3 separate regions of the Homo sapiens genome follow, and all the other regions are reported to be linked to region 2. Evidence: microRNA targets listed by miRTarBase, many of them from high-throughput screens and not tested one by one. Region 2 holds a microRNA gene; each other region holds the end of a gene's coding sequence.

What was found. The annotated mature microRNA hsa-miR-511-5p reads GUGUCUUUUGCUCUGCAGUCA and lies in region 2 at 1,637-1,657, opposite strand. An mRNA with a match to its seed (bases 2 to 7 or 8) in the 3' UTR can be bound and repressed. Matches are read on the target gene's strand: a 7mer-m8 pairs with bases 2 to 8, a 7mer-A1 pairs with bases 2 to 7 and ends in A, and an 8mer does both.
Region 1: miRTarBase lists ELAVL3 as a target of hsa-miR-511-5p. Seed matches in the 3' UTR shown: 8mer at 2,127-2,134 and 7mer-m8 at 753-759.
Region 3: miRTarBase lists NRIP2 as a target of hsa-miR-511-5p. Seed matches in the 3' UTR shown: 7mer-m8 at 1,301-1,307 and 7mer-m8 at 1,778-1,784.

What each region holds. Positions count from the first base shown.
Region 1 is chr19:11,451,719-11,454,718 of GRCh38, forward strand. ELAVL3 (ELAV like RNA binding protein 3) reads right to left here. Exons shown (of 7, transcript NM_001420.4): 7 at 1-3,000. The coding sequence ends at 2,808. Among named protein-coding and RNA genes, the nearest start is that of PRKCSH, 18 kb to the left of the region's middle. RefSeq lists enhancers at 394-443, 474-593, 518-1,288 and a silencer at 2,152-2,333.
Region 2 is chr10:17,843,630-17,846,778 of GRCh38, reverse strand. MIR511 (microRNA 511) reads right to left here and starts at 1,672; the gene lies at 1,586-1,672. MRC1 (mannose receptor C-type 1) reads right to left here. Exons shown (of 30, transcript NM_002438.4): 6 at 1,344-1,490.
Region 3 is chr12:2,824,532-2,827,531 of GRCh38, reverse strand. It overlaps NRIP2 (nuclear receptor interacting protein 2), which reads left to right. Exons shown (of 6, transcript NM_031474.3): 6 at 233-2,184. The coding sequence ends at 325. It overlaps ITFG2 (integrin alpha FG-GAP repeat containing 2), which reads right to left. Exons shown (of 12, transcript NM_018463.4): 12 at 2,456-3,000. Among named protein-coding and RNA genes, the nearest start is that of NRIP2, 9.0 kb to the left of the region's middle. RefSeq lists a silencer at 2,115-2,409.

The DNA of each region.
Region 1 (3,000 bases), not on the chromosome of region 2:
GGGGCCTGGCTGGGCTGAGTTTTGTGTTTTAGAAAAAGAAGTCCCCTCCCAGTCTTGGGGGTGGCAGGGGCCTAGGCCTCGGTGGGGGGGGGGTGTGTGGGGAGGTGCCCCCTCTCTGGAGCCTGGCCCCCCCCAGGGTGGGGGACAAACCCAGCCCTTATTGCTCGGACGCCCTGCTGCAAGCTTCCCACGCGGACGTGCGTGTTCCCGAATGCAGAGGGCGGAGGGGAGAGAGCCCCAAGAGACAGCAGGGGAGAGGGGTCCCTGCCCTGCTGCAGGGGAGAGGAGAGAGGGCAGGGAGGACTTAAAACCACGAGAATAAATAGGTTCGTGTATCAAGAACAAGCTAGGGATTTCACCAGCTAAATAGGACTGAAAAAATTCTCAAGACAAGAGCAAAAAGAATCCCATTGGTGACCTGGACGTCGCTGGCCGTGGGGACTGTCCCGCAGAGCACACGCCCCCGCGTGCCACTCGGCTACCATTACTGTTATTAATAATTATTATTACTTTAATGATTCCACTTCCCCTTTTATAAATAAATTAGGCATAACCATGTCTCGGCAAAACTTAAAGAAACAAAGAGAACATTGTCGTTCCTTTAACTTGCAAACCGGATGAAGTAACAGAAATATACACGGATGTCCTTACAGGGCAACGAGGAGAATAAATAGTTAACATAGCAATAAGTTAAAACTACAAGAAGCTAAATTCAGCAAAAAAGTACAAGAAAGTTAACTGGTGCCAGTTTATGTCTTTTTTTTTTTTCCTTTTTTTTTTTTAAATCTCTTCTGTGTGTTTTCTTTTTTTGTTGCTTTTTTTTCCTCTTCTGTTTGTGTTTTTTTGTCGCTTTTTTGATTTTTTTCTTTTTTGTTCCTTGCAGCAGAAGCTCCACAGACGTTTAATAACAACACCGGGAGGGGTGGGGGAGAGAGAGCTGGACAGTCAGATGGGGGCGCCATAGCCAGACACCAAACGTGGGGACACCGGGGGAAGGCAACTTAACTATAGCTAAAGTCGGGGGTTTTGCAATTCTCAGTTCCGATGGGGCCGCTGAGTGGGGTGGGGAGCGGTGCGAGGGCTCCCAGGGGCTCCGGCCTGTGGCTTCTGTTGGAATTTTTTTTTTTTAAAGAAAGAAAACTAGGGCGATGCAATGTCCAGACAGAAGCCGGGGGCCGGGGCTCGAGATCGGGGGCTGTGTCCACTGCAATCTGGAAAGACGAAAAACCCAACAAACCGAAAGGGGATAGGTAGGTGACAAGTGGACGGGAAAGGAGTGTGGGGCTGGGCCTTTGGGCCCATCCACCCCACCCTGGGCCTGGCGGGGAGTGCCGGGGTCTTGCTGCCGGGGAGGCCCAGTCCTGGTGGGGGAGGCTCAGGGCTGGGCCTCTCCCTCAGCTGTGTGGGCCAAGGCCTCGGCCCAGGGGGAGGCTGAGCCCCGGGGACAGGGGTGTCCTTTGGCCTCAAGTGTTGTGGGGGGGGGGGCTGCCTCCAGCCCACCGTGACGCCAAGGTGGAACGAGGTATCGTGTGTCTCAATGCATGTGCGCTGCGTGTGCACGCCTGTGTTCGTGGGCGCCAAGGAGACCGCTGGGGGTCCAGGAGAGATCTCTGCAGAGAACCTGGGGGCCAGGGCGAGGGGGCCGAGAGGGTGAGGGAGCGTCTGGGGCAGGGTCTGGGGTGGGACCTCCTGCCTGGGCCTGTGGGATGCTATGGGCATATGTCTGCGTGTTCCTGGGTGGTGTTTGTGTTTCTCCGTGACCTGGTGTCCAAATTTGATGTCCAAATATCTATCGCTACATTCACGTGTGCACGTGGACAGGTGGATGGATTCGTGTGCCCACATCTGTGGTCTGTGTCCACATGGACGTAGCCCCAGCTTCTGTCTCTTTCTGTCTATCCCTGTCCACGTGTCTGAGTTTGGCCAACCAGTCCCTTAACGTGTCTGGGGCATGTCGCTGTGTCCGTCTGCGTCTGTCCGTGTGTCCCCGTGGTGTGACTGTCTGCGTGGTTGTTTCTCTGTGTGGCCCCGTGGGCTGCTAGCCCCTAAGCCCTGCTCCCTGGGCCCCCCCCACCCCCGCCCCAGTTGGTAAACATAACCTGCCAAAATATTTTCTTTTTTTTTTTTTGTCTTTTTTTGTGTTTTTTTTTTTCAAGTTCAAGAATCCCCAGTAAAAATTCTCCACGAGGTCTTTTTCCCTTTTTACAAAAATAGAGTTTTTCTTCCCCTCCCACCCCCCTTTTTTTTTCATTTTGTTTCTGCTTCCAGCCCCACTGCCTGCTCCCCCGCATTCCACCAGGGGGCACTGGGCCGGGGGTGCCCACACCCCTCCTCACGGTTCGCTTTTTTGGGGATTTTTAAACCTGTTCCTCCTACCCCAGGCCCCACCTAGGTGCTGGGGAGGCCTGGGCAAGGGGGTCTGGGAGGGCACCCCCTGGAGCCCCCCAAGCCATCCCATCGGGGGTGGTCGAGGGTGGGGGTGGGGGCACATCTCTGCATTCTTTTTAGCCGAAAAAAGAAACAAAAACCTTCACCATGAACCAAACCAAGACGAGAGAGTGAACAGCCCAGCCTGGGGTGGGGGCAGGAGGATGGGGCGGGGGATCCCCGGGCACCCCCCCAATTCCCTGCAGACCCTCCCACCCCAGAGTGCTCACCCTGTGGCTTCCGCAGGGACGTGGGGCCCTCGCGTCGTCCGTGGGGCTGCCTGTGCTGTCTCTCTTGGGCCCCTTCTCTCTCTCTCTCTCTCTTTCTCTCTCTCTCTCTCTGCTGCCCGGGGAGGGGGTGGGAGGGCAGGCGGGGTGGGCTCACGCCTTGTGCTGTTTGCTGGTCTTGAAGGAGACCTGCAGCACGCGCTCGCCCAGGCGATAGCCGTTCAGGCTGGCGATGGCCATGGCCGCCTCGTCATAGTTGGTCATGGTCACGAAGCCGAAACCCTTGCACTTGTTGGTGGTGAAATCACGGATGACCTTGACGTTGGTGACTGCCCCAAAAGGCCCG
Region 2 (3,149 bases):
AGCCATAAAATTAAACATAGAAGCTGTTTATATTCTACGTGGAATGATGTCCAAAATTGTTGTTAAGTGGAAAACTTAGGATAAAAACATATTATAGTATACTGCCATTTGTATGAAACAAAAATAATTATAAATATATTTGTTTATATAGTCACAGAATAACTAAGGATACACACCCAGAAACAATTATTCTCCAGGAAGGTAAACTGGGTGTTACAGGTGAGAGGTAGGGAAAACCTTATTATTTATCATGTTGTATCTTTTGAATCTCTAGCTATGTCAAGCGTATTTTAAAATACATGAAATTGCTTTCAAAGCCAATGGGAAGAAAAAAACAAGAATGCCACATTGTCAGTTTCCTCCAGCAGAAAAACAGAAATAAATTAAACCATTTAAAGCATTCGCTGTCCCTCCAAAAAGAGGTAATAATAAAAAATATGTAGTTTGTCTTTCATCAATTGGAAGAAAGAATTCTTGCCTTAGTAGTTTATTCTCCTATAAAATTGTAAGGGACAACACAATTGATTTTTTTTTTTCTTGAAGTCTAGCCGATATTTAAAATTCAGTTACAGGCCAGGCACGGTGGCTCATGCCTGTAATCCCAGCACTTTGGGAGGCTGAGGTGGGTAGATCACCCAAGGTCAGGAGTTCAAGACAAGCCTGGCCAACACAGCGAAACACCATCTCTGCTAAAAATACAAAAATTAGCTGGGCGTGATGGCACACATCTGTAATCCCAACTACTCGGGAGGCTGAGGCAGGAGAATCACGAACCCAGGAGGCGAAGTTTGCAGTGAGCTGAGATCGCGCCATTGTACTCCAGCCTGGGTGACAGAATGAGACTCTGTCTCAATAAATAAATAAAATTCAGTTACAACTTTTTAGATATTTTATTCTATTTTATGAAAACTTTAGTATAAGACGCTACACTGAATAGCAAGGAAGCCCAGATAGAGCCGTGAGGACCTAATATAAACATCCCTTCCAAATGTTGACTTTCTAGCTTGGATTCCGGTTTTGCCATGTCTGCAAGGTTTCTGTATCCTCTGAATATCTTTTTCCTCAACTATAGCATGTGAATCATGACACCTACCTCAGAGGACTGATTGGGAAGGTAACATTTTTATTTAGGTCAGAGGATCTCCACAATGCCCAGACACCGCCGCACACTCAGGAAATACTAGCAACCAGCACACAGAAATATTGCAGTAATATCATTAAGTTTACCCCATCAACTATCCACAAAACCTCTGGCGGCATTCCAACAGTTACACCTAAGCTGTAATGTTACTTATCTTTCAATTCTAATAGTTGAGGCACTTCAGATCCCATAGATCACTTACCTGAGGGAATAACAAAAGAATTTAAAGTGGTGTTGCCCTTTTTGCAAATATAGCCCAGTTTCTGAACACATTCCAGATTTTCCCATTTAGCATTTTTTCCAGGATTTAGTGACACACAGCTTTTTCCAGGTTCAGCTGATGGACTTCCTTCGAGGAAAAGGAAAAGTTAAAGTGGACTATTATAGCTATTCCCAGCAGATAGCATCCCTCCCACGTCTCCTCATGTCTTCATCCTGGGGATTCAATGGACCACCATTCTGTCTTTTGCTACACATTCACAAAAAAATATTTACTGACTGCAGAGCAAAAGACACGATGGGTGTCTATTGTTTTCTTATCGTTGGATCATTCCAATACTTAGAATGTTGATAAAGCAAATATACTTCTTTGAAACAACCCTTTCCCCCATTATCAGCTAATAAAGCTACACCTTAAAACTTGAACAGTTGTCACAACGGATTACATTATCAAAGAGAGGTACCTAATGAAAAGAATGCATGATTATGCCGCCATAAAAAAAAATGAAATCATCATGTCCTTTGCAGCAACATGGATGCAACTAGAGGCCATTATCCTAAGCGAATTAATGCAGAACAGAAAGCCAAATAGCCATGTTCTCACTTCTAAGTGGGAGCTAAATACCGAGTACTCATGGACACAAAGATGGCAACAACAGAAACTGGGGACTATGAGATGGGGGAGGAATGGAGGGTAACAAAGTTTGGAAAACTAGCTACTGGGTTCTATGCTCACTGCCTGGTTGATGGGATGGATCATTTATATCCCAAACCTCAGCAACATGCAATTTACCTAGGTATGTAACAACCGTGTACATGTATCTCTGAATCTACAAGTAGAATTTATTAAAAAGAAAGAATACATGATGTTCCAAACCTGCCACACTAAACATTATTAGGGCAGGGCACGGTGGCTCACGCCTGTAATCCCAGCACTTTGGGAGGCTGAGGCGGATGGATCAACTGAGGTCAGGAATTCGAGATCAGCCTGGCCAACATAATGAAACCCCATTTCTACTAAAAATACAAAAAAATCGGCCGGGGAGCTGGCGGGCACCTGTAATCCCAGCTACTTGGGAGGCTGAGGCAGGAGAATTGCTTGAACCTGGGAGGCAGAGGTTGCAGTGAGTGGAGATCACACCACTGCACTCCAGCCGGGGTGACAGAGTGAGACTCTGTCTCAAAAATAAAAATAAAAATAAATGGAGGAGAAAAAGCTAATGGGAGAGCTAGATGGGCAGCATGCTGTGCTCCCAGAACTAAAACTGTCTCAATATCTTCAACTCAGCCTACTGAAGAAGACTTTCAGCAGCTATGCCTTATCCATTTCTTAGTGGAAACTGATTAAAGAACCAGATAAAGTCAACGTTGCTAAAGGGATGAATGTAGGCATTGATACATTTCACATGCGTTTTGCTACTCTAATATATGATTTAAAAACCAGTACTCCCCAAACTAGCTTCACCTTCCACCTGAAGACAGGGTGAATGAGCCACATTCTGTTAATACCTATGCTTTGTGACCTCCAATGTGTATGTAACCTGTGCCTGAATGTCACTTCCTTTCCTGCAAGACGGAAATCATATTACCTGCTCCACAAAGTCTGGAGCAGGTAATAACCTAAATAACCTTTTTAAAGTTTTGGTGGTATTCTTTGTGTGGTAATTAAATGATTTTTTTAAAGTTTATTTAACTACCACACAAAGAAAATAATGGTTAGTAATAAGCATTAAGTTATCTTTTTTTTTTCTTTTTGAGATGGAGTTTTGCTCTGTCACTCAGGCTAGAG
Region 3 (3,000 bases), not on the chromosome of region 2:
CTTAGAGATGGGCAACTGTCCCTTTGCTTCCTTAGAGGTTCCTTACTTACCACCAAGTGAAAAATCAAGAGAACTGGGTCACCCCCTTCAACAGGAGTCTAGGGAAATGGGGATGGGGGAAGAGCAAAAGGCAGGTGGAAGCTGTGGGAAGTGGGAGGGGGAACAAAAGGAGCAGGCCGGGAGGCAGGTGGCGGGCTGAGGTGACCTGGCATGACTGCTCTACACCCCGCAGTGCTGCATCGACCTGGAGCACGGAGTGCTGCGGCTGAAAGCCCCGTTCTCAGAGCTACCCTTCCTGCCTTTGTACCAAGAGCCTGGCCAGTGACTGCTGTCTCAGTCAGTCCCCAGAGGGAAAGACCTTGCCTTAGAAGAAGAGGCGTGTGGGGAACGGGGGCTCTTGAAGCCAGGTAGCTGGGGACTATGGTGTCTGCCCTTCCAATCACCTCCCTGACCCCTGCTGTCCCATTTTCCCCAGCTGGCCGCATTCCTCTCTGCTTCTCAGCAGCTGTCCTACTCCCCAGGACGAGTTTTCACTAGAGGGCCCACGATGCCAGGATTCTGATTCATCTTCCTCCCAAGAAAAGCAAAGCCAAATCAAGACCACAGATAGGAACCTAAGCACAATGGGGTGCCTGCTTGGGCTGGGTCGAAGGCTCTGCTGACTGCTGTCCTTGTCCATCACCCAATACCACCCCAAACACAACTCAACTTCCCACACCACCATGTCTCTCACCACACCTTCTGGGCCTCATTATCTCCCACAACTAGACCGCCATGCCTCACCAACCTATGTCCCTGGACCTCCTGGTGTCTGCCTCTCGGAGTCTGTGCACATCTGCTCACAGTTGAGTGGGGGAAGAAACAGCCAGAATTCAATACAACAAAGAGCGGGAGTTAGTATAGGAATGTCCATCTCATAAGGCTGAGAGCTATTTTTTCCTGTGGCTGCAAATGTCTGAAGCCAGTTAGTTTGATTACCCTGTGCAAAACCTTGGACATACTTCTGCTATTAACGCTATAGGTATTTATCCGTTTCCACTGGCTTTTTGTACCCACCGAGCCCCTGAGCCTTGCGTGTGTGTGTGTGGAAGAGCCTTGTAGAGAACTGCTCCTGTGAGGCAGACAGGACAGTGAGGTTGTCACCACTCAGACTTCACCTATTCAGCATTCTTTCTGATTTCTAGAACTATCCACCTCATTAGGCCTTCTTCCTATCCCCATCTCTGGCCTCTTGAGCTTAAGCTTGTATTGTCCTGGAATCAGTGGCTTTCTAACCCCCTGCCAGGCTTTGCCAAAGCAAAAAGACAGAGGCTTTTTTTTTTTTTTTAAAGTTTGGGGTCTGTCAGGAGACAGAGGCTTTTTTGAATTCACTGTGAAGAGAAGAACCCGAACCTTAAGACGCCAGATCCCTGAGAGTCTTTCTGGCTGGTTTGAGTCTCTCAAATCATGGATTAGGAGTAAAGAAAGAGGCCAGGCGCAATGGCTCATGCCTGTAATCCCAGCACTTTGGGAGGCTGAGGTGGGTGGATCACTTGAGGTCAGGAGTTTGAGACCAGCCTGGGTAATATGGCAAAACCCCATCTCTACTAAAAAATACAAAAATTAGCCAGGTATGGTGGTGAACACCTGTAATCCCAGCTACTTGGAAGGCTGAGGCATAGGAGTTGCTTGAACCTGGGAGATGGGGGTTGTAGTGAGCCAAGTTCGTGCCATCGGACTCCAGCCTGGGTGAAGGAGTGAGACCCTGTCTCCAAAAACAAACAAAAAAGGAGCAGAGAAAGACAGTGGTACAGCTAACCTGAACAAGGGAACTGGGACCGTTGGGCTGAAACAGTCTTGAGCCTGGGGTTGACTGGGTTAGAGAAGAACCGGGATGCAAGGAGCTGCCTGTGACACCTGGCCTGCCCTTTCTCAGCTGCCTCCCCTGCCCTTTCTCAGCTGCCTCCCCTGCCCTCAGAAGGAAAGGAGAGGGCTCACTTATCACTTGTGCCATAGCACCTGGTCTCAAAATCCTAAAAGCTTTCCTCGCCCTCACTGCCTTGCTCCACAAGGTCCACTTTCCTGGGTCTTGTGCTGTGCCTTTCCTTGTCTGCCTCCTGCTGCTTCTGTAACTGCAGACCCCAGGCCCAATGGCAAGCCCTCGGCTCAGCTGCTTCTCCATTGGAATAAACTCTTGTTTCTCTATGTCGATGTTCTTCTCTGGTCTTCCTCCCTGCCTATCAAGAGCTGAGTGATAATTGCCCATTGTCCCTTACAGAAAGGAAATGTAAATGTGGGCCCTTGCCCAGGCTGACCCATCTGACTAGGGTCAGTATAATTGAGAGGAATTTGAAAGCAATGGCTTTCAAACTCCTCGACCACAGCTTACCACAGCAGGAATACATTTTACATGGCACTCAGTACACACATGCACATATGACTAACAAAACAATACTTACCTACACTGAGAGCAATGTACTCTGCTATTTTCTATTTTACTTTATTCTATTCTACCTATTTAAAAAATGCTGGCCATAATCCACCAAAGGACTGCAACCACAGTTTGAAAAACACCGATTTAGAGCATAGAGAATCAAGAACAGACGGCACATAAATGACCCAAGATATAATTCTGATTGTGGTCTGGATCATAAACCCGCATCACATTTTAAATGTCTATTGTCTTGGAGACAATAAGCTGTTTTATGGGGGAATGGGTGGGTGGAAAAATGGGAGCAGGGCTTCTGAAGCTGACTAATACCTGAAGAATACGGCAACGTGAGAAAGCACTGACCCGGCTGCTTTGGTAAATGGAAGAAAATCATCTCAGGGTTGCTAGGAACATGGGTAAGACCAGACTGTAGAAAGATCCTTCAAAACAAAACAGTTTGCCATTCCTTTAACAATTACTAACGTCAAGAACTTGGAATTGTGCCACGGAAGACAGAGCTTAAGATGGGGTGGAGCCCTTACCTCCACTGCTCCCCTGGGCCTAAAGCCTGGTTTCCTTATGGGTGTTGG